2 separate regions of the Homo sapiens genome follow, and region 2 is linked to region 1. A link means that fine-mapping ties the variant in region 1 to the expression of a gene that starts in the linked region. Tissue or cell type: atrial appendage. Region 1 holds a variant in brackets; the other region holds the start of a gene. All regions are shown on one strand. Distances are from middle to middle. Region 1 overlaps ASTN2 (astrotactin 2). Region 2 holds the start of ASTN2 (astrotactin 2).

Region 1 (12,519 bases):
CTGTGATCTTGGACATGATAAACTTTTCTAAACTTCAATCTTCCCATCTATAAAACAGAGCTAATACTAATGACAAAAGCTACAATATTAATACCTAATTGTTTTCAGGATAAAATGCAATAGTAAATGTGTGGATATTTTCTTGAATCTGCCAAAGCACTGTACAAATATTACCTAGCATTATTATAACTATTATCACTTAAGTGGAATGCATTCTTTTAAAAGTGATTAACTTTTGTCAACATAGAGTTGATTCGTGAAAGTATAAATGGTCCTCATTGACCCATACATGAAAATCCTTGTTTTCTAAGATCTTCTCTTCAAAGCTTCTCACTCAGCTTTGAACAGATACTTTCAAATGGACACTCACGGCATTTTATCAGGAAGATGAGAAAATGTTATTTTAGCATAGCGGCTACTAGCACAGACCTGGGATTCCCACATCCTGGACTTGTATCAGTCCATTTTTATGCTGCTGATAAAGACACACCAGAGACTGGGAAGAAAAGGAGGTTTAATTTGACTTACAGTTCCACATGGCTGGGGACACCTCATAATCATGATGGAGGGTGAAAGGCTCTTCTTACGTGGTGGCAGCAAGAGAAAATGAGGAAGAAGAAAAAGCAGAAACCCCAATAAACCCACCAGATCTCATGAGACTTATTCACTGTCATGAGAATACCATGGGAAAGACCAGCACCTATGATTCGATTACCTCCCCTTGGGTGCTCCCACAACATGTGGGAATTCTGGGAGATACAATTCAAGTTGAGATTTGGGTGGGAACAAAGCCAAACCATATCATTCCGCCCCTGACCCCTCCAAATCTCATGTCCTTACATTTCAAATCCAATCATGCCTTCCACAGTCCCTCAAAGTCTTAAATCATTTCAGCGTTAACTCAAAGTCCACAGTCCAAAGTCTCATCTGAAACAAGGTAAGTCCCTTCCACCTATGAGCCTGTAAAATCAAAAGCAAGGTAGTTACTTCCTAGACACAATGGGGTACAGATATCGGGTAAACACGGCTGTTCCAAATGGGAGAGATTGGCCAAAACAAAGAAGTTACAGGGCCTATGCAAGTCTGAAATCCAGCAGGGCAGTCAAATTTTAAAGCTCCAAAATGATCTCTTTTGACTCCAGATCTCAAATCCAGGTCACGCTGATGCAAGAGGTAGGTTCCCAACGTCTTGGGCAGCTCCACCCCTGTGGCTTTGCAGGGTATATCCTCCCTCCCAGCTGCTTTAATGGGCTGCCATTGAGTGTCTGCAGCTTTTCCAGGTGCACTGCACAAGCTGTTGATGGATCTTCCATTCTGGGGTCTGAAGGATGGTGGCCCTCTTCTCACAGCTATACTAGGCAGTACCCAAGTAGGGATGCTCTGTGGGGGCTCCAACCCCACGTTTCTCTTCCACACTCCCATAGCAGAGGTTCTCCATGAGGGCCCTGCCCCTGCAGCAAACTTTTGCCTGGGCTTCAAGGCGTTTCCACACGTCTTCTGAAATCTAGGCAGAGGTTCCCAAACCTCAATTCTTGCCTTCTGTGCACCTGCAGGCTAAACACCATGTGGAAGCTGCCAAGCCTTGGGGCTTCAACCCTCTAAAGCCACAGGCTGAGCTGTACATTGGCCCCTTTCAGCCACGCTGGAGAGGCTGGGACACAGGCACCAAGTCCCTAGGCTGCACACAGCACAAGGACCCTGGGCCCAGCCCACAAACCACTGTTTCCTCCTGGGCCTCTGGGCCTGTGATAGGAGGGGCTGCTGTGAAGGTCTCTGGCATGTCCTGGAGATGTTTTCCCCATGGTCTTGGGGATTAACACTAGGCTCTTTGCTACTTATGTGAATTTCTGCAGCCAGCTTGAATTTCTCTTCAAAAAAATGGGTTTTTCTTTTCCACTGCATCATCAGGCTGCAAATTTTCTGAACTGTTATGCTGTTTCCCTTTTAAAGTGGAATGCTTTTAACAGCACCCAAGTCGCCACTTGAATGCTTTGCTGCTTAGAAATTTCTTCTACCAGATACCCTAAATCATCTCTCTCAAGTCAAAGTTCCACAAATCTCTAGGGCAAGGGCAAAATGCTGCCAGTCTCTTCACTAAAACATAACAAGAGTCACCTTTGCACCAGTTCCCAACAAGTTCCTCATCACCATCTGAGACCACCTCGGCCTGGACCTTATTGTTCATATCACTATCAGCAGTTTTGTCAAAGCCATTCAACAAATCTCTAGGAAGTTCCAAACTTTCCCACATTTTACTGTCTTCTTCTCAGCCCTCCAACTGTTCCAATCTCTGCCTGTTACCCAGTTCCAAAGTCGCTTCCACATTTTCAGTTATCTTTTCAGCAACTCCTCACTCTACTGGTACCAATTTACTGTATTTTTAGTCCTTTTTCACATCGCTGATAAAGACATACCTGAGGCTGGGAAGAAAAGGAGGTTTAATTTGACTTACAGTTCCACATGGCTGGGGATGTCTCTTAATCATGGTGGAGGGCAAAAGGCACTTCTTACATGGCAGTGGCAAGAGAAAATGAGGAAGAAGCAAAAGTAGAAACCCAATAAATCCACCAGATCTTGTGAGACTTATTCACTATCATGAGAATAGCATGAGAAAGATCAACCCCCATGATTCAATTACCTCCCCTTGGGTCCTTCCCACAACACATGGGAATTCTGGAAGATACAATTCAAGTTGAGATTTGGGTAGGAACACAGCCAAACCATATCAGGGCTCTAGTCTGAGCTCCATCCATTCTAGTAGAAGAGTTTTCCCTCCTGAACCTCAGTTTTCTCACAGGTAAAGGTTAGTTAACAACAGCCTTCTCAATGGAGTGCTGTAGAGATTAGATAAGGGACGAGTGTGTGAAGTGTTTAGTGCTATTCTTGGGACATAAAAAAGACTCAGGATATGGTATTATTAATAACAAAGTTTTACTGATGCACAAACAGCAGCAGCCAAAAAGACGGGGCCATGCACATGAGCACACAGAAGCAGAACAGGATGGCTCAGGTGTCCATTTTCATTGCCCATTCCTCCATGCCACCTGCTCTAATATATACCCTTTCACATGGTGTTAAAGGATGAAAAACGCATTTGCTTAAAATCCATCTGCTTTTTATAACTTCCAGAGACCAAAATCTGCACAAGCAGCAGTTCTTTGTGGCTCCTAATTAATTCCTAAACAAAGACTGCTCTGGCAGCAGCCCAGTTTATCAAACCAATTGACCTCCTGGTGCAGAAATGATGACACAGATGTTGTTGCTATGTCACAACCTCATTTTTCACTTTGCATCACTTGGTCAGGCCAGACATATCTTCACCTTCTGAGGAGTAGAAGATAGTCCCCTGGGTGACTCTGAGACCCTAATTGTTATCTCCCATGGTTATGGGCCTTTCTCCACTCAGGCGCCTCCCAACAAAAGTCTGGAGTGGAGGTCTGGTGTGGTAGCTCACGCCTGTAATCCCAGCACTTTGGGAGGCCAAGGCAGATGGATCATGAAGTCAGGAGATCGAGACCATCCTGGCTAACATGGCGAAACCCCGTCTCTACTAAAAATACAAAAAAATAGCCGGACGTGGTGACATGTGCCTGTAATCCCAGCTACTCAGGAGGCTGAGGCAGGAGAATCGCCTGACTCTGGGAGGTAGAGGTTGCAGTGAGCCAAGATCGCACCACTGCACTCCAGCCTGAGCAACAGAGCGAGACTCCGTCTCAAAAAAAAATAGTCTGGGTTGGAACAGGCCAGAAAACATCACCTGTCTTTGGTTAATCTGAGGGCTTCCCAAGCTAAGGAATCTCTAATCTGTAGGGTTCTTGGGAGGCTACCAGTAATAATAATCACAGTGGCCATGAACCCAGTGTCTATTATGTGCCAGGCACTCTCCTGTGCATTGTGCCTGCTTTATCTCATTTCATTCCACACAATCTTTGAAGATATGAGTTAGCATCTTAAATTCAAAGTCAAGAAAACAGAATATTGGAGATATGAAGAAAGGCTTCACAACACTGGAGGTGCCATGGCACTTCGTATAGGTGAGTTACCAAGAACTTCTTTCAAGTTATCTCATCAAGGCCTCACTCCATCACTGTAAGGTTCTGACAGGTTAGACAACTATTTCCAGGTCATACAAGTAGTAGGCCAAGAAATGGTCTTCAAAAGGGGTGGGCCTTTCCTCTGAGTTAGTTGTTCTTCCAATTGGATTAGGAACTCACTCTTATAACCCCAGATAACCTTATTACCTCCTTAAAGGCCATATCTCCTAATACAGTCACGTTAGGGGTTGAGCTTCTTAATCAATATGCTAATGAAGACAGCATGGGCTCAAGGCTGAATCTAGGTTTTGGGTGGTTGTGTGACCTTGAGCAATCTCAGGCTTTTCATCCAGAAAATGAGTATATTCTTACACATTTCATCTGTGAATAATCATTAACCACCAAAGTTCTTGCCATTGTATATCAAAGACTGCCTTTCCTCTATTCTCCAATATCATCTTCCTCATTTCCATCAGAAACCTCACCACATGCACCTTTAGCATCCATTTTTTCTATCAACAGTGTTTTCAAAGCAACCTAGGCTTTTCCAACATGCACTTCAAAACTCTTTGCGGCCTCTACCCATTACTTAATTCCAAAGCCACTTTCACATTTTTAGGAATTTTTTTTACAGAAACACCTTACTTCACAGTACCAAAATCTGTATTAGTCTGCCCACACTGCCATCACAGCATACTAAAAACTGGATGGCCTCAACAACAGAATTTTATTTTCTTACAGTTCTGGAGGCTGGAAGTCTAACATCGAGGCACCAGCAGGATTGGTTTCTGGTAAGGCTTCTGCTGGCTTAGAGATGGACACCGTCTTGCCCTGTCTTCCCATGGCCCTTTCTCTGCTGTGGGTGTGCTTTCACTGATGTCTTTTATCTCTCCCTCTTTTTTTTTTTTTTTTTTTGAGACGGAGTCTTACTCTGTTGCCCAGGCTGGAGTGCAGTGGTGCAATCTTGGCTCACTGCAACCTCCGCCTCCCAGATTCAAGGGATTCTCCTGCCTCAGCCTCCCAAGTAGCTGTGATTACAGGCATGTGCCACCATGCCTGGCTAATTTTTGTATTTTTAGTAGAGACAGGGTTTCGCCATGTTGACCAGGCTGTTCTCACTCGAACTCTTATCCTCAAGTAATTCGCCTGCGTTGGCCTCCCAAAGTTAGTGTCTCTTCTCATAAAGACACAAGTCCTGTTGGATTAGGAGCTCACTCTTATAACCCCAAATAACCTTAATTACCTCCTTAAAGGCTGTATCTCCTAATACAGTCACATTAGGGGTTGAGCTTCAACATATTAATTTGCAGGGGAACACAATTCAGTCCATAATATCTGCCATTCTGACTGAAAACACCTGCTTAATATATTGTCAGGAGATTTTAATGAAATTTTAAATGGGATCATGTTCTATTAATGTTAGTTGGTCAAGAGCATTTGAGCTTCAAGAACAGCTACAATTTATTGAGAAATTTCTATTTATCAGGCACCAAGTCTGTACTTAACATGGATGCTTCCATGCCTCACAATGATTTTATTTGAGAAGGTATTATTGTTGGCACTACTTTACATTTGAGGAAACCAAGGCTCAGGAGAAGGCAAGTAGCTAGCCCAAGATCACACGGTTATCAAAAGGCTGAGAGATCCCGTCCAACAGACTCTCCTCTCCCATACTAGGCTGTTGCAATCATTCTGATGGCCCAGACCTTCCCTGCAAGTGGGAATCCTTCACCTGAGAACATCTGCTACCACAAGAGAGAGGAACTGACCCTCATCTCCCCCCAGACAGCCTCTGGTGACTTTACACACCATCTAAACAAAGCCTCTGGCACAGCCACCAACATATTTCACTC[C/T]CTATTAAGGAAAGCTGAGACAGGGCAGGCCTCTGGACACTTCATTAGGGGAACATCAGGACACATAAGGACTGTAATAAAACAGGAACCGAAGAGGGTGTCCATGGGGAAAGCCCGGAGCTGCTTGTGCTTGTACCCCTGCAGAATTTTAGAGGAGGAAGGGAGGGCTGAGGGCACAGAGAGACAAGGGCGGGGGAGAGGGGGATGAGATAAGGCTGCCATGGGAAAGCAAGAGCTTTGCTGCCAACAGAGCAAACACAGGATGTGGATCCCAGCTCAGTCTCTCCCTAGCTGTGTGGTCTTGGGCAAGGCCATTTCACTTGATGTACCACAATGATCCAATCCATAAGATGGAGATATCAATGCTTGCCAGGTGGGATTTTGTGAGAATTAAATAATAATTTTAAAAATTAGCATGTTAAGGCTGTGACTTTCCCCCTAATGGTTTCGATGAACTGTAGGTGGACATGAGGGCGATCTGGCTGCAACATCTGTCACTCCATTGACCTCCAGGGTTGATTCAGCTGATCTGTCTGGCAAGGGAGGTGTCCTCTTCCCCCCTCACTGCTCTATGTGTGTCCCTCCCAAAGCTGTATGCTCCGTTGAAGAGGATGGCCATCCCCAATAGAGGAGGACTGTTTTTTGGTCAAGGGCATACAGTAGCTGCACGCCCCTGCTAGAACCTCCAAACAAGCTTTCAGTGAGCTGTAAGTTTATGATTCTCCACCTTTGTAAATTCCCCAAAACCTCTAATTGGTGTTCAGATCAGGCATACATAGGGTAAGGTTCAGGAAACTATCTTTTAAACAAACACACAAGAGAATTCTTTTTGTTGTTGGTAGTGGTAGTAAATTTATTCTTGAAACCATTTCAATGAGATATATTAACATGTAAAAAGCTGTGCATATTTAATGTATATAACTCAATGAAATGGAACCTTGGTGCCCTGTTAGTGGGAATGTACATTGGTACAGCCATTATGGAAAACAGTAGATAAATTCCTCAAAAAATTAAAAATGGAACTACCATATGATCCAGAAATTTCACCCTAGGTAATTCTTATGTAGGAAGAAAATCCTGCTCCACACCTAGTGAAATACCAACAGTAAACAGGAGAAAATAATATCAGGCAATTTTTAAACCTCCTAGTAATAGTGGTAGTGCAAGGACTTTAGAATCATGACACTTGGTTACCAATATTATGTTGCTTATGTAGGATGAAATATATATTATCTATGGATTTTAGTCTCCTCCTAGGTGATCTGGGTAAACTACCCTAAATAACTGTTTCAAGAAATAAGTAAAATAATGCACATAAACTTCCCTGCATATTCCCCACCATATGGTAAGTGCTCGGTATTATTTCTCTGATAGATTCATTTTCACCTAGCTCTTGCAAATGACTTGTAATAATCCCTCAACTGTGGAAAACATAGACACAAAAAAATTTTCTACCTCAATTCCAACCTCACATTTTGTTTAATAAAGCAATTTACAGGGGGTAAAAATAATTAGTGGTTTTAAATGCTTTAATACAAGCAGGCGCTGTAATCATGATAAATCATCTCTGACATATGCCCAGCTCCTCCAAGTGACAGATGACAAACAAAAGCAGGACAAGGTCCTCCGTCACAGGCGGAATCATTGAATTAATGGAAGAATTATTGCTTCTGAAATCCACTCCAGTCCTATTGAGGAGAACGTTCCAATTTATCAAAGCCAAATGAACATTAATTGCAGCAGTCTGGTAAGTTTTCCAGCCACTATGACCTTCATTGAATTTTAATCCAAAACAGATAAGATTTCCTTCCACACAAGAGGAAACAACACAATTAGCTCAAAATGACAGCTAGATTATGAAGCAGGCACACACAAACAACACACACACATTCACACTCACGCACACTCCCAGTGAAAATATTGATTCTACTTGACTTAAAATTCAGCACAAAGGAGGTGAGCAGAGAAAAAGGTAAATAAATACCATCACCACATCTGCCTAACCCCTTCCCCCTCTTCATTCAGGAGAGAAATTTTAGAGGCGGAAGCCAAGATGGAGAAGGTGGCAGGCAGTAATGGAGACAGAATTTCTGTTAACTGCTGTAATTAATGTTATGTCTCATCAGGGAGAGATTAGGAAAAAACAGAGAAGGAAGGAAGAAAAAACAAGTGTTATTTTGCTATTAAAGACGCCCTTGAGCTGGGAACATTAGCAGCCGAAGTTTGAATTGGGTAATTGTTTGACTGTATCGGTGGATTTGCAGACAGGATTACCACAGTGAAGTGAAATGTAGTTGCGCTGAACCTACAGCGTGAGTGGCTCCCTCAGCATGGAGCAAGGGGCCTTCTGCTGGGTGCAGTTTATAGCCTGACACAGGCACACTGCCCTGAGATTTAGATGGGAAGGCCAGCTCTGTCATCAACCTGCTGTAAGACATCGTGAGTCACCCTTTGAGACCTAAAAGCTTTGTTTTTGTATTTATTTTCACTCTATTAAAGGGGTTGAACTGGAGTTTTTAAAACGCTTTTGTTTTTTGAGAATTAAATCAGAAATTTCTGTTTTCATCAATTCTAAATATCTGTGGCCAGAAAGAACTGGCTGCCTTCTTCCATGGTCCAGGGTCAGGCTTGCCTCAATATCTCATAGTCTCGTAATTGGATGATTATGGAGATGAGCTCCTAAAAAGTCCTTATCCATCCTTGCCCCCTATAAGAAAGGAAATATTATACAGCAGATGGAGCAGAGAGCTCATTTGGAACTAGAAATATATGTTTAATTCTGGGCTCGGACACTGGCTATGTGATCATACTAGAGAGTTGTCTTAACCTTCTAGACCTTGGTTTTATCATTTGTGAAAACGGAACAGTAAAAACAGCAATATCAATAGTATCATTAATACAACATTTGTATAGAGTTTGCATATTTACCAACTTTTAACTGTAGAAACTATTACTCTCACCATTTTACAGTTGAGAAGACAGAGGCACAGAGAAGTTAAGTAACTTAACCAATGTCACTCTACAAGTTACGTGGTGAGGCCAGGATTCCAATCCAGGCAGTTCTGTCCCAAAGTCAACATTCTTGTTTTGGGTTTTAGCCTTTTTATTTTGAAAGAATTATAGACTCACAGGAAGTTGCAAATTTAGGAGAGAGCTCTTGTGTACTCTTCACTCAGCTTCCCCCAATGTCAACATTTTTCATAACTATAATAAAATAATGAATACCAGGACATTAACCATGATTCAACACTATTAACTAAACCACAGACCTTATACAAGTTTCACAAATGATGCCTCTTCCAGCTTATGGTAGCTCTTGGTTTTCCTTGGCTTGGGCTACATAATGCTCATTTCTCTCTCCATCTTCATACCATCTTCCCCTGTGCCTTCTCTTCCATGTGTCTCTCATAAGGACTAATTTTTTTAATTTTTTTCACTAATGTCCTTGTTTTTCCACTAATGTTTTTATTTTGGTCCAGGATCCCACATTGCATTTAGTTGTCATATCTCCCTAGTTTCCTCCAATTTGTGACAATTACTGTTTTCCTTGTTGTTGTTTTTGTTGTTTATGATCTTAACACTTTTGACCATTGCTTGTGAATTATTTTGTAGAATGCCCATCATTGGGTTTGTCCATATTTTTTCATGATTAGAATGGTTATACATTTTTGGCAAGAAACCCACAGAAATGACATTGTCCTTATCAGTGCATTACTTCAGTGGATTCATAACGTCAATGTGTCTGATGAGTGAGGATGTTAATTTTGATGACTTGGTTAAGGTGGTGTGGTCAGTTGAATAGTGGGTCCCAGAAAGATATGCCCACACCCTAATCCCTGGAGTTTGTGAATGTTATCTTATTTGGAAAAAAGGGTCTTTGCAGATGTAATTGAGTAAAAAAATCTTATGTATAACAATCTGAGTTATCAAGGTGAACCCTAAATCCAGTGACAAGCATCCTAATGAGAGGCGCATGGAAGAAAAGACACAGGAGAATGTAGTATGGAGGCGGACGTAGAAATTAGCGTTCAATAGCCCAAACCAAGGAAAACCAAGAGCTACCATAAGCTGGAAGAGGCAAGACAGGATTCTCCCTTCGAGCCCCAGGGAGAGTGTGGCCCTGCCAACACCATGATTTCAGACTTCTGGCCTCCAAAACTGTGACAGAATAAATTTCTGTTGTCTTAAGCTTCTTAAATTATGGTAATTTGTCACGGCAGCCTTAGGAAGCAAATACAAGTGGTATCGGCCAGATTTCTCCACTGTAAAGTCACTATTTTCCTTCTGTAATTAATAAATGTCTTGGGGGGAGACACTTTGAGACTCCACAAATACCCTATATCTTCTCAAAATTTCACCATTAATTTTAGTATACATCAGTGGATCTTGTCAGTAGTAATTATTACAGTGGTGATTGCCTAATGGTGATTTTCTGTTTCCCTCTTTCCTTCTACATTTATTAACTGGAATTCTACTGTAAGAAAGAGCAATCTTTTCTGCCCCATTTATTTATTTAGTCAATTATTTATATCAGTATTTTAAAGTCAATATTCTTAATAACCTCCCAACATAGCTCAAAGGATGTTTGTGAAGGCCAAGAACGATAACAGAGTAGGAAGAATATTTTTAGAGGCCAAAGGAGAAGAAAGGGACCTTCCCTGGGCACCTTGCTGATGCTTCATGAGCCTTTTATCACTTATTCCTCCCCTCAGCCCCATGAATGTGGATCTCTCGCCTCATTTACAGCTCAGGAGAAAGTGAGGTTCAGAAAGGTTCAGTAATGTGCCAAAGGACACACAGCAGTAAGGGAAAGAATCACAGTTTAAGTCCTCATCTGTCTTGTCTCCAAAACCACGTGATTCCCACCAAATCAAGCTATGCTCTGAAGACTGGGAAGGAGGGAGAAAGGTGGATTAATTGAAGGGAGAGGCAGAAGTTCCAATATATCCAAATCAAAGCTCACTTTCCATTTTTACTGTGGGCTTATTTGGGGCATATGAGAAAGGGAGTAAACAGCGTGAACCTCACTGCAAATGTGCTCACAGCATTCATTTTGTGTTGCTGTTAAAATACCACACAAAAGCCCCAGGTTCTTGAAGGGGAGGAAAATGTGGAACAGGAGGCTGGGGCAGAGGAAGTTGGGAATGGTCACCAAGGGGACACACGCCCTGACTCTCTTGCCAACCTGTCCGCCCCTCCCCACTTTACTTCCCTGCAGTCTCTGGATCTCCCCTCTCCTTCCCTTCTCCCAGACTCCCTGTTGCAATCCAGTCCACCCTGCCCTGCCATGGCCTCTTCTCAGATCCACAGTGCTGGGTGCCCCTGCCTCCAGCCCTCTCATCTCTGCTGGATGCTGTCTGGGCTTGATTGCCTCCTCAGCCTCGGATCACCCCGATTGCCCGCCCTTCACTCCATCTACCTCGCTACCCGACTCCCAGCCCTTTCTTGAGGTTGAGTTCCATCTGCTTCTCTTACTCGCTGTCTCTCTCTTTTCCTGTTCTCTTCTCTCTGTATCACTTCCTCCATGCTTTTTATTCTCTGTTTCATTTTCCCCCATCTCTGCTTTTGTTGCTAAATCCCTTTCTGTCTGTTCTTGCCAATTCTCCTTTATTTTTCTATGTCTCTCCCATCCTTGGTGCCCCATTCTCTCAGTTTCTTCTTTATTTCTCTCCGTCTCTAGTAATTTCAACGTACCTAGTATAGAATAGTTTCTCAATCAACATGGGTTGGATGTTTCTGTCGGTATTTTCTTCTGCTTCCCTCTGTCCATATTATATATACATAGCTATAGCTATACACGTTCTTATTCTGCATTGTGCTTTGGCCAGGAGGTTCAGTGGAACTGCCTTCAGGCCCTTTTCCTGAGCTGCCTCTTGCCATCTCCAAGATACCCTTGTCAAACTTTTCCATCTGGGCTTTATCATTGGCCCACACTAATGGGACAGGGATGAAGAACATCCATTCTCCAGCTTCATTTTCCCCATCTACAACATGAAGGTGGGGTACATTCTATTGCTGTGGCAATTGCTTGCATGTGCACCCCCTGTAAAAGAATTGCACACCCCTGCCATTGGCTCTGGGCTTGGCCATGTGATGTGCTTTGGCCGATAGAATGTGAGAGAACCCACATCTGAGCATCAGTTTCAAGAGGCATCCTATATTTTTGCCAGCTCTCTTGCTCATTCCCTCTGCCATGAAAACCAAATGTTTCAAACTGGGGCTCCCCTTCAGCCAAAGTACCAGAAGGAGAAGACAAGCAGAGCTGAGCCTGCAGTGACTGCAGCTGCCGATGTGTAAGGTGCATGAGAAGTAAAGCATGGTGTGGCCAAGGCACTATGATTTAGAGTGGTCTGTTTGCAGAATAAACAAGCAAGAGCTGACTAGCCTGGAAGAGTTGGATATTCTATGAGGTCTCAGGTGTTTTCAGCTCCAAGATCCCACTATATTTCATACTTCTACTGTTTTTTTTTTTTTTTGGAAACTCTTGCTAAATGGTTTTATGTGCATTAAGTTTGATGTTATGATTTTAATTTTATTTCCATTTTGCAAATGATCACACAAGAAACTCAGAGAGGTGAGATGACTAGCCTGCATTTCTATAGCCGGTATGTGGAAGTCTAAGCTTGAAACCA
Region 2 (12,519 bases), 140 kb after region 1:
GTTGACTGTTGTAATTGTAGTAGAGAGAAGTGTTGAGGCCTGACCTTGACAGTGACTGCAGTGCTGGGGATGAAGAAGTAGTTTCCCTTCATAGTTTGTAACCTACAACATGCTTGTCAAATTTCAACTCACAGACTTGGATGCTTACATATTCCAGTATGCTAGTAAGAAAGCTACACATATTTCAGTTTTGAATCTTGCATTGTGTAGTCATCACCCACTCCTTTTCCATTCAAAAGGGAGTTCTTTTGGGGGGCTATTGTCCAAAAGAGCTATAGTCAGTAGAGAAAAGCCAGTGAAAGGAGAGAACAAGTGCTAGAAAATAGAACAACTCTCATTGAGCATTGCTGCCTGCCTCTTTCTGGGGGCAGAGAGGCTGTCTGCTCCATTGCAAGGAAAGAAAAACCAGCTCTCTCTCTCTCACTATAGTTAATCTTTTGTTGCCACTAGCTGGTCAGTATGAGAACGTGGGAGAGTATCAGCTCTGGAAAGGAAGCCTCCTCTAATGCTGCTCCACCCCAAGGTTAAACCCGACTCTTTTTTTCCTTTCCTGAAAAGAGCAGATTTCCTCCACCCACCCCCAAAGGCAGCTAGGGTGAGAGGCAGTGAGGCTTCCTTCTGCCCCAGAACAAAACCCATCAGCCCAGGTGCTTAGGATAGATTGGAGCCAATCAGTTGGATACTCAGGCAGGAAAACCAATTCAATTTCCCTAAGGAGATTTTTCCTTGTAGATTTTTTTTTTTTGGCAGGGGGAGAGGAAAGAGTGTCCCCCTTTATGATGCTGAACTAACTTGTAGAATCTGTGATATGTTTAAACCCAATGCCTTCTGTGAGAGGCCCAGCAATGTGATAGAAAGAGGCAGTGTGGGCTTCAAGACAATTGGGCTTAAATTTGGACTGTAGGGTAGGTTTCTTCCCTTATCTAGGCCTCAGTGTTACCATATAAAATAGAGGGGTTGAATTCAATGCCTTGTGAGTCTGTGATGCTGGGAGCCCATCAAAGTCGACGGTTGTGGTGACAGTTTTCCAGACTTCATTCAAGAGGTCGCTGTCAGTCTATCCTCCTCTCCCCACATCACACATATTCACAATGGCCTATGGCAAACAAGGCTTAGTGTATAACAAAGCAAGGAGGTGAGAAGCAGGAGGCCTTGCCAGCCAAAGGCCTAGTCAATCCTCCTGCTGCACCTGCTACAAATTAAAATCACAGAGTAATTTTGCAGACTGAGGTCCCAGTTCAGGAAAATGATCAAGCCATGGGTCATGCCAAAGCTTGCAGATCTGCCTAGGTTGGTATCACTGACCCCCCAAGAAACAGCAAATCTGGTCCACCTTGACCAAATCTAAGCCTTGCTAATGGTTGAAATGAGCTCTCCCCTCTCTCTGCCCTACACTGTCTCAATAACATAGTACTTTCTGAAGGAAGACAACGTATTTCACTCTGCCCTGAGCATTAAATAAATTTCATCGGCTTTGAGATGGAAAGAAGTGGGGTAGGGTATGGAGTGAGGGAAGTGAGTGGAAAAGAGTAGAAGAATTAGATCAGAGGCCACTAAACACCACCTCCCCCAAGACCCTTGTTTATAATGTCCCAGAAACCTAGACCATCACACCAAGATGGGAACTTGAAGTTTGACTGCTAACCAAATATCTCAATTAGCAGTAAAGGACTTGGTGACCAAATGAAGAAATAACATACATTGTTTTAATCCTATCTTTCTCTCAAGAAATCAAATTTTCTTGCTTCTCCATCCCAGAATCTTTCTCTCACACATAAGAAAAAAAAGTGGAATTGATGCTAATGAACATTCTGTGGTCAGAAACCCCTAGAGAAGACACAGCTCATGACTATTTATAAGGATTTTTTCCTCCCTCCAAAAAAATTACCATCTGCTTTGATTCAGCAAAAGGAGGTAAAAGCAAAATTGAGTAAGCACTCATTGTCCACCTTTAGAACCAAACCAGAAAGCAATAAGGGTATACAACGGTCTGCAAGGAAGTGGGTCCATTCTTCGAATGTCTGCCAAACGGAGGTCCAGTCTGTGCTTGAATACCTACAAGGTGGATTGTATTACCGTTAGGGGTCAGCATACTGGGTTGTTGGACAGCTCCAGGGGACACAGCCTCCTGTAGGGCTCAGCTCTATCCTCTCAGATCTTTCAAGACATTCGTTAGAATCAGACACCCTCCCCTTCTCCAACAGAAAACATACTCTTAATTTGTGTAGACTTTTCTTTAGGGACAGGGTCTCCCCCTGCCACACAGGCTGGAGTGCTGTGGTATGGGCACAGCTCACTGAAGCCTCAAACTCCTGGGCATAAGTGATCCTCCTGCTTCAGCCTCCCAAGTAGCCACCACACTCAGCTCATTGTTGACATTTAAAGGAAGCTTCTCCAGCCCTCTGTGGCTAAACTCCCTTCTCCCAACCATTCTTCTGGCCAGGTTCCTGGCACCTCACTCCTTCAAGGAACATTTGCTGACCTGAACAAGTTGGCATTTCAAACCGTATCTTCCTCCTTCTTCCAGGCCATCAGCTTCTTGCATAAAGCAGCCTTTGGGATGGTCCTTTGGGACCCCGCCAGCTCTACGCATGCAGGTGTACTTAACACAGACTAATGAATAGCTTTTCTTTCTTCACACTCCCTCCCCCAAATACAGATCACACGCCTCTCCTGTCAGGTTGATATGGCAAAGCAAATTACTAAAAAATGTTGACAATGAGTGCTTATTCAATTTTATTGCTTTTTCCTGCTTTTGCTGAATCAAAGCAGGTAGTAAACAGTCTTGCCTGACCACTATCAAGCACAGCAAGAAGGATGACATTTCCCTACCTGTGGGCATGAAAGCTAAATCCACAAGCAGACCCCGGGGGCTGCCTGGAGGTAAGTGAGGACTGAATGACATACAGGTTCACCTTAGAAGCCCTGGGCTGGCAGTTGTTCCTGCTCAAATTCTTTCTTTTCTATCAGTCCTTCCCACCACCCTCATGTTACCAGTAAAGGAAAACAGACAGTACAAAGCAAGAGGAGCTATCAGAGTCATGGAGTAGGTCAGGGCACTTCAAGTTCATAGAATCTTTACACGAAAGGATTATTTTAGAGCTCATCTACCCACTCATATTGCAGCAGAAAGAATTGAAGCTCTGGGGGATAAATGACTTATTCAAGGTCACAGTGAGCCAAAGCTGAGATTTCCAGATCCTAACCAGCGTTAAATTTCTAAGCTGCATTTTAGCATTCCACTTTTCCTCATTTTGCCTATTAAATCCTCCAAGGCCTAGTTCAGGTTCTTTCTGGTCCAGAAAGTGCCCCCAGTCTTCTCCAATTCTACAGAGATGCCTTCCTTCCCTGATGCTACAGAATGTATCATCTCCATCACTCATTGGCACCAATAAATAAAATGCCCTTTGACATCCAAGAGTCATGAAACTTTGAGCTGGAAGGGTCATTGGATGTCATTTAACTCATATTTCAGTTTCAAACTTACATAGGTCAGCTCACCAAGGTAGCTGAAGTTCCTTTGGAGAAAAGCTCTTGTCTAACAATCTTGATGATTGTTATCCCTCTCTATTCAGCACCATAACCTGCATAAACTTCATATTTGGTTCAGAATACCAGTTTAGCAACCTACAAGAATGTAGGTGTCTGGCAGACCAGGATTCCAGTTCCAGGTCTGCCATTGATTCCTGGCATGACTTTGGATTACGCGTTTGACCTCTCTAAAAATACTTCCTCATCTGGCAAATGGGAGTAACAGTAGAGCCCACTCCATATATGTTATGTAAATTAATAATACAAGGCAGGAAGAAAGCTCTTAGCATCACATTAAGGATTCAATAACTATTTGCTATTCTTTGATCACTTTCAGGGAGATTCACTTTGTCAATGTCATTGACTTATAATCAGATTCTAAAGAAGAATCCCAGGCAAACAAACTTTGGAGATAGTTCACAACTGAAGGAAACTTCCATTTACTTAAGGCAGGCTGAAATTTGATAGGGAGACTAGAAATACAAAAAGGAAAGGATCTGCAAAAAAAAAAAAAAAAAAAAAAAAGACTTGCTTCCAGTCTGGGCATTACCAATAACAGAAACAAAAGAGGCAGAATGGAGGGAGCCAGGGTTAAATATGAAGGTGACCTTGGTGCACGCAGATGGGAGATAGTGCATGCAAAATTACCTTGAGGTCCCCCACTGGAGTTTGAATAAACTAAGAATTCTTCTTTTTGTTTGTCCCCCTTTAATACCAGGGATGGTTTACCACCACTAATTCTGGTCCCAGGACCCAAAGTGACCAGAGGGCTTTGGTGGACACCATCACCCCCTAGTGGTAGCTCCACACTCCCCACTATTGGCAGAGTTTGGCATTTACCAACTTTGCATGCTCAGCTGTGGCACTGGCCATGTCCGTATCCCCTGAACTGATAAGCTGATAGTGAAAGCTGCCCAACTCGCCAGAGACAAACGTTAGGCAGGATGTTTAAAAGTCTGGGGATGGGATGGGGCTGCCTTGGGACACTAGAAAGAGATGGCCATAAATGTCTCATAGTATCAGCCCCAACCCCACCCCTACCACCACCCCCACCTCACCCCTCCCCCCCCCAACCCCCAGCGGGCACCAACTCTCATTTCCGGCCAGCTAGGTCCTCCCAGAACTCATTGTGCACTCTGTGTTTACACACAAACAGTGGAAGACCAACACAAATAAAAATCCCACGTCTCCCTACACAGCTCCTGCTATACCCAGCCATCTGGTGACTACCTCGCTAGCCAAATCCCCGTTGAGAGCGCCTAAAGCTGCCAGCCCAGGGCGCTAGGGGGAAAAGGAGGAGGCAAGAACCCAATCCCCCGCATGCATCCAAAAGGCTCAGCGCTGCCAAGGAGGCCAGCCCCGTGCTCTCCAAGGGGCAGAGGGTCCCAAGCTGCCAGGCTCAGGGACCGTGCATCAGAGGAGGGGGAAGTCTCCATGTGCAGGTTGTTGCCAGGAGACTCTCAAGCAACACATGGGTCCTGGGGGAATCAAGACTTCTAATTCCTCGCTCAGGTCCTCACTCAGCTTGTCCCAGGCTCACAGGCACCCATCCTGTTTGAAAGCCAAAGTTAAAAATGGCAAAGATTGTCAGTTCCAGGAATCCCGGGGCACCTATACAGATGGTTGGAGCAGGTCCTCCATATCCTCGAAGACTTGAAATGCTCTGTGGTCCTCACTGCCAAGTCAGGCCATACCCAAGGACCGTCTCATCCCTTCACTTGAATGGCCGTTTGGGGGGCGGGAGGATTTCCACCCCTCATCTCTCAGAGTACCCCGGAGTAGAGAGATCTAAAGGATGAAGGGAGAAGGTCAGGAATGGAAGTGGTAGTGAAGGGATACCTTCTGTGTCTCTAGAAAGACCCTTCCCCACGGGGAGGTGGCAAGAGCCAGCTGTGAGCCTGAGGTTAGTCCGGCGGCGCTCTAAGGAACACCACCTCCACCCTCCTTCCCTTTCTCGGACATGGGCAGCCCCACAGGTGCACGTGGGAAGAGCTACTGGTTTGTGTGTGTCTGTGTGTGTGTGCTTGGTGCGTCGCACCCCAGAAGCGCCGCCGCGGGGAGTCCCCGAGGAACCTGCAGGACGCTCCGCTGCCTCTCCTCCCGGAACGCTCGGCACGCTCAGGTTACAGCCTGCGAGGGTGGGTACAGGGGCTCGACCCCCGAGGTTCAAGCTCAGAGCGGGAGAACCACTGGCACTCGCTCAAATCCCCAGAGGTGGTAGCATGAAAGGATGGGGAGTGGGTCACAAAAATACTTTTAACAATATCAGGGCTACCAGGAGAGTGGAGCGTAGTCCGCTGATTATTCTGTGGGTCTTTTCAGGCGAGCAAGGAGTTAACCTCGGAAGTTCAGGGATCGTAAAGGTTCTCACCTGGAAGGCCCCTCACCTGCGGTGCCCGAGGCGGATCCCGCCGAGGAAAAGACCCGGGGAAGAAGAGCTCCGGGTCTGGGCGAGCCCCTGGCGCCTCACGGGCGCTGTTGTTGGCCAGACTCCGACAACCAATAAGGCCCCGCGCCCCCAAGAGGGGAGGGGAGAGCGAGCAAGCAGCGAGCGCGGGAGAGCTAAGGGGAACAACATTTTTGTAAACGCTCTCCGAGATAATTAAGCTATCAATTACCCGGGTGGGAAATCAGCTGCGCTTCCCACAGCTCCACTGAAGGGCCGACTCCTCCGGGATTCGCGCAGGGAACCAGCAGGCAGCAAGCTGCTGGCGAACTTTTCTGATTAACTTTTCCGTTGGAGCCCCCCACCCACACCCATCTCCTCTCCTCTCCTTTTTCTTGCCTTTAAGTAATTATTATTAGCCCAGGGAGTGAGCTGCAAGGACAAACCGGCTCTCTGCCTGGAGGTGGGTAGAAAGGGAAGGCGGTAACGGGGGTAGAGGGAGGCTCTAAACGTGGAGACCTCGGAGTCGGAATCCCAGTTCTCAGCAACCACTCAAGTCTCTCCAGCCCTATTTCACAGATGGCCAGAACTGAGGCTCAGAGAAGGGAAGCGACTTGGCCAAGGTCACTCAGCCCATGCGGAAGCCACGCTTTTGCGGGTTGAGCGATTCCACACGGAACTACTCCATTCCTACTCTCATGAAAATCCATCTGGAAGGGCAGAACCCGCAACTCCGAGGCGAGAGCGAGGGGGCGGTGACGGCGGGTGGCCAGTGACGGTACCCGGAGAAGTGGGAGGCTCGACCTGAAACTGGCTTAGGATCTGGGATGCTCCGGCCCCTAGCCAGAGCACCTTCAGTGAATGGGGTCTCCGGCTTCCGGGATGGATCAAGCAGAGCTCCAGGTCGGGACTGAGAGGCAGAGGGGCAGGTTCCCACTGCGGGAGGGTTGGCACGCCCCCAGGCTCCCGCCGCGCGCTCTCCAGGACCTCCTCCCACATGCTCGTTTCCAACCACCTGTGCGACCTCTGGGCCCCTCCTCTACCCTCTGCCAACCCCACTCGGGGCAGCCCCGGGCAGGGATCCCCAGGGCGCCCCCACCCGTCCGGCATGACGCAGGGGCTCGGGGTTCCTTGGGATCTAGCGCGTGCCGGCGCCCAGCCTTACCCAGGGTGAAGAAGGGCAGCTCGGTGTTGTCCAGGTCGTCCTGCACCGCGATGCGCCCCGGCAGCTCGTTACGCACAAAGAGCAGGAGGCGCGACTCGGCGGCGGTGCCGGCAGAGCCAGGAGAGCCCGGGGACGCGGCGGCGGCGGCGGCTCCGGCCCCGGTCCCAGCCCCGGCCCCGGCGCGGGCGCCGCTCCAGCCGATGTCGCTCTCCCGCAGGGCGGGCAGTGTGGACACCGTGACGGTCTTCAGCCGGCACGGGCTGTCGGGCTCCCGCGAGGCAGCGGCGGTGGCGCCGGCCAGCAGCGGCGGCGGCGGCAGCAGGAGCAGGAACAGCAGCAGCAGCGGCAGCAGTGGCGGCGGCCCCGGGTGGAAGCAGAGCCTCGGCCGCCCCCGGAGCCCCGAGCCGGGGCCGGGGCTGAGCCGGGCGCCGGCGGCGGCCATGGCGGGAGGGGCTGCGGTGCTGCGGGCGGCGGCGGCGGTGGCGGCGGTGGCGAAGGAGGAAGAGGAGGCAGCTGCGGAGACGGCGGACGCCGAAGCGAACCAGGACGCCCGAGCTAAGGAGCGGAGAGAGCCGCTCGCCAGCAGCCCCCAGCTCCGGGCTCCGCCTCCCGATCGGCCCTGGACCGCCCCCCCGCGCCGCCTCCCGGGGCCCAGCCGCCCGTCCCCGATCTCCGGCTCCCCCCGCAGACCCCGAGCGTTTCGGAGGCTCCGCCCGGCCTCGTGCAAGTCCCAGTGGCTCCCTCCCCTTTCCCAAGATCCCCCAATTCCGCCCTCACAGCATTCTTTAGCCACAACACCCCTCCCTAAACTCCCCAAATTCCTAATACTTAGGGCCCCCTCGGGCCCCCCCAAGCCCCCCTGACTCAACCCAGTTCTCCTGGCTTCACCCCACCTTCGGCTCAACCCAGAGGCTGCACCTGGGGGCGCGCCTTGGCCCAGCCTTGCTCAAGGCCCCGCCTTCTTGGGGATAGGGAGCCCCCTGGATAGCCAAGACTTAACTTTGTCTCCCCTCAGGCCCAAGAACAAGTCCTTTCTCCAATCTCCTACCCTTTTCTAGTCTCTGAAATAACTTCCTGTAGCCTCAGAGCCCCCTTCCCACCCACTTGGCCACAACTCCTGCATTCATTCTCCCACTGCCCGCAAACCTTCCTCTCCCCTCCATCCAGGCCTTGTGCTAGCACTAATTGCTAATGGACAGAGGGGCGTCGAACTCCACCGTCTAACGCCGACCCCACAACTGACTGAAGCCGGGCTGTTCTGGCCCCCTAGCTGCCGCCCTGCAAGCCAGCCCACTCACGCTTTTTTATTTTGGATCCCTGCTCCCAGCTTGGAGCAGCTCTACTTGGCTGCTTCTGCTCTCTGTGTGAAATTCCTGAAAAGGGTGTGAGGTAGAGACCTACTATTCTGTCTGTCCTTGGCTCCCGGGTCTTTTAGATCCTCTGCCCAAGTCCCAGAGAACGGGAGTGCTCACCAATTCTTCACCTGCAGTCTTTCTAGACTCAAGTTGAGCTAGGTCCTCAGATTCAGCACCCTTTGGTCTTGGGCTGACTCTGTCTCTGACCCACATACCTGAGACCCTCCAGGGAGCGGACACCTCTGCATGGGTCAAGTGCCGTGCAGCCCCTTCCCCACTCCCCTACTTTTCTTCATCTTCCCTGTCTCTGTTTTCTGTTTCATCTCTCCATTCATTTCCTTCCTTCTCATCTTGACTTTAATCTTACAAATGCTTCTTTCCTATAATTTGTGAGCAACTTCTCATCTCTGTCTAGCTTACCCATCTGCACCTTTTGTGCTGTCTCTATGCATTCACTTTTCTCTTAGCTCTTCCCTCTTCTGTCTCATTCCCCTTTTCTATCTTTAACCCTTCATATAAATTGCTTTTCTCCTCTCTCATCATATATTTTTTAATAACGTTGGATAAAGGCAGAGCACTGAAAATAAGGAAAAAAGCAAAAGCTGTTTTGCGACCTTGGACTTAATGTGTTTAAAGCATTCTCCAAATGCTAGACATGTACGTATGTTAGCTTTTTTACATGACCATAATCCAAAAAGATGGATATTATGATTCCCATTTTCCATGTGAGGAAACTGAGATCAGGTGGTCAGGGAGGTGAAGGGATTTTCCAAGGTCGTATAGCAAATGAGCTGAAGAGCTGAGGTTTGAACAGTAGGCTTCAAGCCTTGACTGTTTCCCTTAAATTACACTGTCCTCAGTGACCTTGGAAAACCCCACCCATCAAAGATGCTGTAAAAGGTAAATCTGCATAAGCACAGTTGGATCTACTTCCCTGTGAGGTTTGTAAGGTATACTTCTCCTGTCTCAGTTTACTAATCTGTGAACCCAAAGGATGTGTGGAGGTTGGGGTGGAATCTGGCCTTTCAAGTCCTCTAATTCTAAATGGTCTCCTGCCTCTCTGATGCCTGCTCTAGTTCATTTACTCCTCCAAAATATGTCACCCTGCCTCCCTCAGTCTCTCCTTTGTGTCCTTACAATCCGCCACTATCCACCGCAATGGGGCTTTCTGATTCTCTATGCCCCTTTCTTCAAATATGCTGACATAGTCCATTTACAGAAGAGCACACCAGGAAAAAAGGGCTCCCTTATGTAAGGCAGAGTCTGTGCAAGTCCTTCATGGACCTCTAGTACAAAGGCCTGTCAAATGAGACCAACACTTTCATTCATTCATTCATTCATCACCAAATATTCAGGGTGCCTACCAGGTGCTATATGGAGATGCAGGGATGGATAAACACAACTCCTGCCTTTGGAAAGCTTATAATGATTGGGGTGAGGGGGTGGGATGCCGGAAAGAGACAGGCACATAAATATCTCAGGTAATGGGCAGGCAGGCAGACATGTGTTTCCTAAGATGAGGTACTTGGAGAAATCAAAGAAAGCTTCCCAGAGGCGGTGGCTTTGGAATTGAACCATAAAGATTAGTAACAAGGGAGTGGGCATTCTAGGTTAAAGTTGGCATTTGGCATTCTTTGCAACTGCTTAGTAAATGAATAAATCCCTTTCCTACATCAGAGAATGTTTTATCTTTTAAGGCACAGCCCACCTCCCATGAAGAAGCTAACATTTCTGGATACTTTCTCAGCCTCCACTGCAGCTAGAGCTTGGGCACATGACCCAGGCTTCACCAGTTAGATTCACCCACCCCAGATGCTGAAAAATAAGCCGGAATCAGGCAGAATCCAGTGGCGGCTAAAAGGGCAATAGTTGGGGCAGTTACATCCAGGTGTCTCTGCTAGTCGAAAAGGTTCTAATAGCACTGTTTGGAGCCCAGTGATATCAATGTCAACAGTGTGAAGTGCCTTTTATTTATGCTTGGCTGCAGCTGAAACATATCTTCACCCATACAGTTCTGTGCTATGATTTGGAGTGGTGCTCTTGACTTCATGCACTTTAAACCCAGATCCCATGCCTTTCTGGAGATTCTAAGGAATCTAATAATCACTTAACTGAATTCTGAATTCTCTTTCTGCTTAAATTATTCAGGATTGCTTTCTGTTGCTTGCAACTGAAACACCTGGCTGAGAACACAGAATGTGGAAACAAAGGGAGGGCAGAGACAGCAAGGTGTATGATGGGAAATGAAGCTCAGTGAGGGGGAGAGGGAGTAACTGAAGACAAGACAGAAAAGGCAGACAAGGAGTACCAACTTTATATCACAGACAGTGTCAAATCTGGAATGTCCACAGGAAATGACTTATACTTCTGAACACATGCTCTGTGATCCAAAACTTTTTGTAGCATATCAATGAATGATGATAACAACTGTTGCCTTATGGTGGTTGTGAGGCTTTAGAAATAATTATACAAAGCATTTAACACATAATAGCTGCTCAATAAATTATAACTACTGCTTTGATGTATAATCTCAGCAACATTTGGAGCAAGGCTTTTTATCCCTATTTTATAGGTATGAAATCGGAGGCTCAGGGAAGCTGAGAAACTTGATTTTGGTCATGGAGTTATCAAGTGGTGAAATACAAGAATGCCTGGCTCCCAAATCTTTGCTCTGTCTGTCACAGAATGCCCCTCCTGGCCTCAGCCCTTTGCATGCAACTTATTCCCAGTATACTATAACTTCCCTACTCATACTCGAGTCCCCTGTCCTATGACCACCACTTTTCTCCCTCTCAGCCCCTCACACTCCTTCTCCTTTCCCCTCTTTGTTCAGTTATATTTCATTATTGATTCAATTCTTTCTCTTTTACAGTCCCCTGTACTCCCATCTTTGACTCCACTGATACAAAATTTTTTTCATTCTAACTCCTTTCCAGTCTTTCTAGCAAATACTTCCTCTTCTTTCATCTTTCATATTTGCCTTTCTAGGTAGTTTTGAAATATTTTTTCTTTCCTGCTTCCCCCTTCTCCATACTCTACTCTGTTTTAAAAATCCCTTGTATTTATGCCACCTGACTGAGGCATCCTAATGTAGTTGAAAAAGCCAGAGGCCCAAGAGGCTGGTTGATTTTCGTTTAGAAATCATCTTTGCTATTTCTCTATGGAGTCAAGTCACTTTATAGTTCCTACTAGGTCTTTTCTTTTCTCATTTGTGAAATGGGGAAAGTAGTACCCACTTCTCAGGATCACTGTGTGAATTAAATGAGATGATGTGTATGAAACTGTCTAGCACATATGAGGCTCTCTTGAATGTTGTAAGTAAATCCAATCATCTTACGGATCTCACCCACTGTTTTCCACTCCAGCCTCATGTCCCATAATCCCCACCACCACCACTTGATTCCAACCATATTGATCTCTTTTCTGTTCCCGAAATACTTCAAGCTCTTGTTGCCCCAGCATCTTCAAACGGACTCTTTCTTCTGCCTGGAGAGACCTCCCTCCGTCTTCACTAGCTATCTTTTGCTAGTCTATAAGTTTTGCTAATCAAAGCACTTTCCCTAACGTGACCACCCACCCAGCCTAAGTTAGCCTCTTGCTGTACTTTCTGTTACATCCTTTCATATTTCTTTATAACCATTTTAATTGTACTCATTCCATATTTCAATAATTGTCCATTTATTAGAGCATTTTCTTGGTGCGTATGTTCCTTACTAGATTGGGAGCTGCCAGATATCAAAGACCAACTATGTCTTGCTTACCGCAGTGTGCACACCAGCTAGTACAGTAACCTACATAGGGTAGAGATGCAAAATAAGTATTTTGCCAATGAACCATCACATATTTATTGAATTTTTACTGAGACAGGCACTGTTTTCGCATTAGCTGCACTTTCACAGAGAATATAATTTAAATTTTACAACAAAAACCTTCCCCCATCCTCCGTCTGTCAATTCTTCCTTCCCTTCTTCCTTTCCTTTCCTTCTTTCCTTCCATCCTCCCTTCTCAGCTTCCCATGATTCAAGTAATTCTTTTTAACAGTCTTTCTTCTTAAGCCTCCAGATGATCTCTAGAACATAAAT

Evidence for each region. PIP is the estimated chance that this variant, and not a neighbour inherited with it, causes the effect.
Region 2: ASTN2 starts here. The variant in region 1 is fine-mapped to the expression of ASTN2 in atrial appendage (GTEx, PIP above 0.99).

Annotation. Positions count from the first base shown.
Region 1 is chr9:117,270,635-117,283,153 of GRCh38, forward strand. All of the region lies in intron 2 of ASTN2 (astrotactin 2), which reads right to left. It also overlaps the pseudogene RN7SKP125. Among named protein-coding and RNA genes, the nearest start is that of SNORA70C, 96 kb to the left of the region's middle. The variant C/T (reference allele first, on the strand shown) is at 5,888.
Region 2 is chr9:117,407,415-117,419,933 of GRCh38, forward strand. It overlaps ASTN2 (astrotactin 2), which reads right to left and starts at 7,643. Exons shown (of 23, transcript NM_001365068.1): 1 at 7,083-7,643. The coding sequence starts at 7,524.